3 separate regions of the Homo sapiens genome follow, and regions 2 and 3 are each linked to region 1. Evidence: fine-mapped expression QTL. A gene starts in region 1. Each other region holds a variant in brackets. All regions are shown on one strand. Distances are from middle to middle.

The links.
Region 2: its variant is fine-mapped to the expression of LY75 in whole blood (INTERVAL, PIP above 0.99).
Region 3: its variant is fine-mapped to the expression of LY75 in thyroid (GTEx, PIP 0.93).

Annotation. Positions count from the first base shown.
Region 1 is chr2:159,903,612-159,906,374 of GRCh38, reverse strand. LY75 (lymphocyte antigen 75) reads left to right here and starts at 1,619. Exons shown (of 35, transcript NM_002349.4): 1 at 1,619-1,786. The coding sequence starts at 1,693. LY75-CD302 (LY75-CD302 readthrough) reads left to right here and starts at 1,619. Exons shown (of 38, transcript NM_001198760.1): 1 at 1,619-1,786. The coding sequence starts at 1,693. RefSeq lists silencers at 1,417-1,658, 1,428-1,887 and enhancers at 2,068-2,147, 2,288-2,337, 2,558-2,607, 2,658-2,707.
Region 2 is chr2:159,859,734-159,862,496 of GRCh38, reverse strand. LY75-CD302 (LY75-CD302 readthrough) reads left to right here. Exons shown (of 38, transcript NM_001198760.1): 15 at 1,608-1,676. LY75 (lymphocyte antigen 75) reads left to right here. Exons shown (of 35, transcript NM_002349.4): 15 at 1,608-1,676. Among named protein-coding and RNA genes, the nearest start is that of LY75, 44 kb to the left of the region's middle. The variant G/A (reference allele first, on the strand shown) is at 1,156.
Region 3 is chr2:160,009,646-160,012,408 of GRCh38, reverse strand. The region is part of intron 10 of PLA2R1 (phospholipase A2 receptor 1); the gene reads left to right. Among named protein-coding and RNA genes, the nearest start is that of PLA2R1, 52 kb to the left of the region's middle. The variant A/G (reference allele first, on the strand shown) is at 1,571.

The DNA of each region.
Region 1 (2,763 bases):
TATTAGGGTTCTCTAGAGGGACAGGACTAATAGGATACATGTATATATGAAAGGGAGTTTATTAAGGAGTATTGACTCATATGATCACAAGGTGAAGTCCCACAATAGGCTGTCTGCAAGCTGAGGAACAAAGAAGCCAGTCCGAGTTCCAAAACCTCAGAAGTAGGGAAGCCAACAGTGCAGCCTTCAGTCTGTGGCCGAAGGCCAGAGATCCCCTGACAAACCACTTTTATAGGTCTAAGAGTCCAAAAGCTGAAGAACCTGGAGTCCGATGTTCGAGGGTAGGAAGCATCTAGCACGGGAGAAAGGTGAAGGCCAGGAGACTCAGCCAGTCAAGTCCTTCCAACTTCTGCCTGCTTTTATTCTAGCCATGCTGGCAGCTGATGAGATGGTGCCCACCCAGACTGAGGGCTGGTCCGCCTCTCCCAGTCCACTGTTAATCTCCTTGGCAACACCCTCACAGACACACCCAGGAACAATACTTTGCATTCGTTCATATCAATCGAGCTGACAATATTATCCATCACAGTGCCTCAGTCTCCCCAGTATTCAGGGGAGGGCAGAGATGTTGTCTTTTTGTCCTTCTGTTCCATGGCGTGCCCAGATCCTGTGATGGCAGGTGCTCACTATATCTATGGAACTGAAAGGCCAGACCCTGGGGAGAGGACAGAGCAGGTTTGGGAGCCAACTGTGAAACCTTGGCAGTGGGAGTCAGGAAGAGCAACCTAGGTCTTTGCATCCTCATGCAACAAGGATGGAGGCCACCTCAAGTACACATTATGTGCTCAGCAAAGACGAGATTTAAAAGTATAAAACATTCACATTTGAGCAACTTAGGTCATTAAGAATTTGGCCTCTTTATAATGATAGCAGTGTCCACAGGAAGAGAGTGAGTGGGACATGAAATTTCTGGTTCTGCATGCAGACTTCTACATTTCTACCAGCTAATTATTATTATCATTAAATTATTAAGCAAAGAGCTTACTCGCAAAGGTCAACTTTTTATAAAGCATAAGTCATCCTTGGAAGTGTCGTTTGGTCATTCTAGTAATTCTTGCTTTTAATTCTTTAACAACTATGGGTAGAACTGCAGTGTACCATTATTCCACCTTTGTTTGCACTGTCAAAATACCCAAGACGTTGCCAAGGACGACTGAATTCTTAGGCTTGGCCGCAGCCACCCACAGGGCAGGTGCTCACTTCCTCCTCCGGGGTAGAAGAGATCATGGGTCCCTTTCCAGTCCAGGCTGGAATGGAGAAGTCGTCCCTGACCACAGTGCGCCAGGCAGAGGCCAAGGTTCTAAACTGATAGAACCCACCCACCAGGGCGGTGCCAAGTCCCAGTAAGGGCCGCATCTCCCCAGCTTGGCTGATGAAGAGGCGGGGACCGAACCCTCCAGTGCAGGAGCCTGTCTGGTGCCTGGCTCTCCCACCGATCCGCACGTACCTCTTCCTCGCGGGTCCTACCCCACGCAGGTATCTAGCGCCCAGCCCTGTTCATTTCCCACACCTGGCCCGCTCCGCCCCGGGGCCGAGGAGACGCACGTCTGATTGGCCGAGGGCGGCGGGGGCGGGGCCGGGGCGCCCCCAGAGGCCTAGACAGAGGTGCGGGCGGGGCAGGCCGCGCTCAGCAGGCGGGGCGGGAGCCGCGTGCGCCCGAGGACCCGGCCGGAAGGCTTGCGCCAGCTCAGGATGAGGACAGGCTGGGCGACCCCTCGCCGCCCGGCGGGGCTCCTCATGCTGCTCTTCTGGTTCTTCGATCTCGCGGAGCCCTCTGGCCGCGCAGGTAACCGCGGGCACGCCAGCCCCGCAGTCCGCTGGGTGCCTCGACGCCACAGCTCTGCTGCCTTCCAGCCTGGGGCAGGGCTGCGCCCCTGGGGCAGGTCACGGCTGCTTTGCTGTTGGGGCGGGGGGGCTCTGGAGCCGGAAGAGTGAGTCGCAGGGGAGGTCTGGCAGAGGAAGCGCCCCAGTGCCCTCGGGGGCCCGGAGGAGGGCGCGGTGGATGTGGGAGGACAGGGCCCTTCTGGTGCAGAGGGGACGCGGTGCACCGTAGAGTAGGCGCACGGAGGCTTTTTTGGCCGGGTGCGCTGCTCCATCGTCGCCTCTCTTATATAATGTTGCTGGAGTATGGGGTTCCCCATCTGCCCTCTTGCGTCCCGTCCCTCCCGTTCTCGCTTTTCCTTCGGCCCTTGGTCACCTTGGCCACAGGGCCAAGAGGAGCCTCCACCCACAGCGCCAAGGATTCCCCACGATTCCCGGATTTCACTGCGCCTACGGTGCGCATCAGGAAGGAAGTCAGGTTAAATAAACCATCTCCTCCGAAAGTGACCAAGACCAAGAGTCAGCTATGATGCCCTCACCCACCGCCTAGAGCAACAAACCTTTCTTCTCATTGGTTTATCAGCTCCAAATGACCCCGCTCCCCCAAGGCTGACAGCCTCACGGTGAAGGGCAGGTCGCCTGCTTGGGGACCTGCTGCCTCTCACTGCGGAAGCAGGACCAGAAACAGACAGCCTTCATTGATGTTCAGGGTAGTGCCAGCCCCACCACACCACACCCCTTGGCAGCAACCGGTTGCTTTTACTTTCTCTTTTTGCCTGGGCGAGGGGTGTGCAGAGAACTTTGTTTCTTGGTTGGACTGCATCATGGGCACTCAATGGGCCACCCTCCACCGGCCACTTCTGTTATCGTGCCTGTATGAGGAAGGAAAAGATTGTCCAGGCAGTTTGAAAAACATTAAATTGTTGGTGGCTCTTATTTTCT
Region 2 (2,763 bases), 44 kb after region 1:
TAGTCATCTTTGGGTAGTATGAGTGATTTTTTTCTTTTTGAAATGGGGTCTTACTCTGCCACCCAGGGTGAAGTGCAGTGCTGCGATCTCAACTCACTACAACCTTCACCTCCCAGGCTCAAGCGATCTTCCCACCTAGCCTCCCCAGTAGCTGAGACCACAGATGCATGCCATCACGCCCGGCTAATTTTTTTTTTTTTTTTTTGAGACGTAGTCTCACTCTGTCGCCCAGGCTAGAGTGCAGTCGTGCAATCTCTGCTCACTGCAAGCTCCGCCTCCCGGGTTCACACCATTCTCCTGCCTCAGCCTCCTGAGTGGCTGGGACTTCAGGCATGTGCCACCACGCCCAACTAATTTTTTAGTAGAGATGGGGTTTCACCATATTGGCCAGGGTGATCTCTAACTCCTGACCCTGTGATCCACCCGCCTCAGCCTCCCAAAGTGCTGGGATTACAGGTGTGAGCTACCGTGCCCTTCCACGCCCAGCTAATTCTTATATTTTTTTGTAGAGATAGGGTTTCACCATGTTGCCCAGGCTGGTCTCAAACTCCTGAGCTCAGGCAGTCTACCCATCTTAGCCTCCCAAAGTGTTGGAATTACAGGTGTGAGCCACATCTGGCCACAAGTGATTGTTTTCAAAGCTTTCTCTTTATACTGTTTATTTTCATTTTTATAGTAAGAAGCTTTTCTTTTTATTATCTAAATATGGAAGAGTTATACAAAAAATAAAATATCTTTTTCTGGGGGGACTAGGTGGGGATGACAGAGTCTCACTGTGTCACCCAGGCTAGAATACAGTGGTGCCAGTATGACTCACTGCAGCCTCAACCTCCTGGGTTCAATTGATCCTCATGTCTCAGCCTCTCAAGTACAGGCACATGCCACCACATCCAGCTAATTTTTGTATTTTTTGTAGAGATGGGGTTTCACCATGTTGCCCAGGCTGGTCTCGAATTCCTGGGCTCAAGCCATCTGCCAACCTTGGCCTCCCAAAGTGCTGGGATTACCAGCATGAGTCACTGTGCCTGGCCAAAAGTATCCTTATTGGAGGAAATTATTTGTTTGGAGAAACCTCTAGAAAATCCTTGCTATTATTCCACATTTATATTATAAGGATATATTAGTGTAATAGTTATAGGAGCAAAATTATTCTCA[G/A]ATATTCAATATTTACTCCAATTTTTGTCACCAAAAATTGGTGACTCCAATGTCACCTCCTTTTTTATTCTTTCTAAATGTAAAACTCCTTGAGTTTATTTTCAAATTGGAGCATATCTGAGATTAGTTAATCAAATAATGAGCATTTCAACACATGCAAAAAAAGAAAAAAGTATTTTGCAAACCTGATTCTCTATGACTCCAGCGGCGAACTTAATACACTATTAACTTCCACTTCTGAAACTGTGGCTTCCTTTGTTTGGAAACTTATGACATTATGACATTTGCTAAGTCCTCTCATGATTTAGCATCATGATATAAAAAAGAGATGGAAAAGTTTTCTTTCTGTGGCATATCAACGCACTTGAGTGATTAAGGCTGCCTAAATTACATCTAAATTGCAAATATTTATACATCAGTCTTAAATTCTCAAGCCTCTCTTGTCTTTTCAGGTGTCTACTATTATCATGCCAAATGAGTTTCAGCAGGATTATGACATCAGAGACTGTGCTGCTGTCAAGGTCAGTACAATGCTGGAAAATCTGCATATTTAAAACATAAGTCCATCATCATATGCAGTCAAGTAACAGATCCATGGAGTGTCTTTTTATGTGAAGCATGATGTTAGATGCAGTGAGAGATAAGCACACCCATGGCCTGGCCCTCAGCAGCCTAACTTACACTTCATTTGAGAGGATAAAATTCATATTCAAGAAAACCTCTCTCATTACCACGCAGTAATATGCTCCAAATGAGGGGGCTGAGGAAGGCTAATGAAATTCAGAGGAGAAAGTGAGTCCCATGGCCATTTCCCAGGAAGAGGTGGGACTTGAACTGGGACTTTAAGGATGGATAGAGTTTCTACAAATGGGATAGGGTAAGGTTTTTTCATGAGGGGATGGTATGAGAAAGTGGTATAAAATAAGGTGGAAGTGGAAGAGGGCAGTGGAGAACAGAATACAGATCAAGAAGTTTCATTGGTGCTGTCCTTGATAACAGTATTAGGAAATCAGATTGATGCCACTTTAAGGAATTTCTACACTTCTTGATAGGCAACAGGGCATTTTTTAAAGTTTCTGAGTAGGGAGGGTCACATGAACTAAGGAGGGTATGAGGAAGATTCATCTTGAGACAGATGTCAAAAGCAACAGGTAAGATTGGAAGGCATAGAAGACCAGTGAGGCATCTTCCTTTGCAGAATGCATTCATGTATCCATTTCATAAACAGTCCAAGGAGTCAGTGAGGCACTGGGTGATAGAACAATGACAAGGTACAAAGCATAGCCATTGTCTTCACAAAACTAAAGTCTAGTAGGAAATAAAGACAAGTAAACAAGCAATTACAACACCACTGAGTAAAGACTATGACATGCGAAATACAAGTTTTATGCAAGAACAAGAATATTATGAAAGAATAATAAGGATGGTGATGGTGATGGTCCATGGTGGTGGTGATGATGATGATGGAGCAGCTAACACTGATTAACTCCTTTATGAGCCAGCCACTATACTAGGCATGTCACATATGTCACATAGCACATAAGCAATCTTGTGAGGTAGGCACTGTTACTGTATTCATCTCACATGGAAATTTGAGCTGTGAGTAAT
Region 3 (2,763 bases), 110 kb before region 1:
ACCGATGCATAATACCTGTAGGGGATAAAAATACCAAGAGTAAAGGTGACCTCATATTAGTATCGATGCCAGGAGGACAGTGGGGGCTGGAACACCTGGGAGACCCACTCCTCCTGGGGAAGACAGAAGCGGGGTAGAACTCCAGTGGTGCCACAGGAAACTACACCTGCAAAGCAAGTCACTTGCATATTTACCTGGGCCATTGCCTTTAAAAATATTCACTGAATACCAGCAAATAGGACAACTGGTTTTACCTAGAGACCCTTCCCATATAAGCCTAATTTGTAGAGGAATTCCTGTATGATTTCTCTGCTCCTCCCACATTGGAAGTCAACATCCAAAGCTGCCAGTATGTCCTTCCTCCTCTTACCCTCTTTCTTGCCTTCTTACCCAGCTTCTGTTCCAAACAATGCACAGGAATGCATACACACACACACAAACAGACACACGCACACACACACACACTCAAATGGATTGATAGCATTTGGCAGACTAAGTCACCTGGTGAAACATTTTACTTTCAGGAGATCCTCCCGTTGAAATATAGCACTACCTTTGATGTATCTCAGCATTGTTTTTAGTTCTACCTTTCTCCTCCCAGGTTTGGCTAACAGGCAGAAGAAAGCCTTTATCAATTTGTTAACTCACCCAAAAGGTTCCAAGAACACCTTGGGTTGGAAGTCCCCCAGTCAGTGAGTCAACACTGGACTTCACAGGAGGCTGACCAATGAAGCTATACGCTCTTTTGTTAATTACAATTTAATTATGTTTTTTACCAAAGAAAATAAGTCCAATTGTTTCACCTGTTTTTTATGTCTTATTCTTTATTTTTTTGTTTAATGTTCATTGAGTGCCTGTCACATACCTGGCACTGTGTTAATTATTTTTCATATGTTATCTGACCACACAAAAAATTAATAGCCAAGAGTTTATTAGAAAATTTTTTTTGAATACCTGTTTTGTGAGAGTCCCCATATTAAACACTGACATGCTATCCACAAGAAATAAAAGGCATGCTATTATTGTCCAGTGCTTTCTGAAACCCAGCAGCTGAAGAGATCGAACATAGACACAAGAAATAAGTGAAGAAGGTAGAATAGCACAATAAATGGATAAACTCACAGTGACATTACAGATAACCCATAGTGCCACAGTGACCCAAGCTAAGGCAGAAATCTGTTAGAACAAATGCTTCATATTCCATGAACCCTTTGGGGACCTCATACAAATGACAGAAAGTATCTGGGAAAAAAATCTGTTTCATTTTCCCCAAAACTGGATACAAGACTATGTTGTGAATACTTTAAATGTTTTCTCTGGTAAACTGTATTCAGTAGCCAGCGCTCATGCCTGGTCCATCTGTAAAGCAGAACTATGGCATAGAGAAGTTTGTTTTTATCCCAGTCTTGGCCTCCTACGCCTGTCCAGATTGCCCTGTGCTGGTGTGCTGCCTGGTCACCCGCCAAGCCCTGAGGGAGTACAGATGAGCAGGATGTGTCATCTGTCCAAGTCAGTTAACATATACTTATGCTACCCCCAAAACATGTCTACATTCAAAGCAGCAACTCCA[A/G]CACAGGACTCATGAGTTGAAGAAAGAAAGGGCCAATGCTCTTGGTTTTTAATCATTCAGAGTCCATCAGGGAAGAAACAAGGGTCCACACTGTACTGCTTTTGATTCACCATACACGTTGGAATTTTTGCAAACAGCATCTTTTGTCTGAGAAGGTTGGGCAGTAGATGGAAAGTGTCTCAGATCCAGGAGTGTCCACTAGTGGCCATGGTAATCATTTTCTTCCATTACTGATTTCCTGTTTAAGACACTCCTGTCACTCTTCAGTACCCAAGCTTGTAGTTGCTAATCGATTTTCCACTCTTCTGCACAATGGAATGACAGGTTTGATGGGCACAATTAGAACCACCTGCTACAAATTACTTATTTCTTTTGTGATCAGGCAACTGCTCCTGGTCTAAGACTTTTAACACTTTGTGGAATAGAGAGGGGAAGAAAAACAGATCCTTATTGTTGAGTAACAAATTTTTGTTTGCTTGCTGATTGTTACAAAATTTTTTCAGGCCTGGCCACTTTGCTTCCAGACAAAGCATGAATGCAAAAGTTGAGTTCCAAAATTATAATGGATAATTGGCTAAATCCATGTATGTCTAAATTTTGAATCAATCAGCCATAGAATATTGGTACAAAATAATCCAAATGGCATTCAATTTTGTGAATTTTGCCAAAAGTGAGAAATTCTGCAATATCTCATTTTCTCCTAAGTTTATTTTACTTTCATTTATTTTTGAGACAGTGTCTTACTCTGTTGCCCAGGCTGGAGTGTAGTGGTGCCTTCATGACTCACTGCAGCTTTGACCTCCTGGGCTCAAGTAATCCTCCTGCCTCAGCCCCCCAAGTAGTTGGGACTACAGGCATGTACCACCATGCCTGGCTAATTTTTTAAAATTTTTTACAGAGACAGGTTCTTGCCATGTTGCCATGGCTGGTCTTGAACTCCTGGGCTCAAGCAATCCTCCTGCCTCGGCCTCTCAAAGTGCTGGGATTATAGGTGTGAGCCACTATACCCCTCCTAAGCTTAAATGTGCATTATTTTAAAGCATTTTTACAGCTCTACCGTTTTCCTGCAACTGTCATATCTCCCCAAAACACTTTTGCAGTTAATATTTTTTTTATTGTGGTAAAATATACGTAAAACACACATAAACGTAAAATTCACCATGTTAGTCATTTTTCAGTGTGCAGTTCAGTGT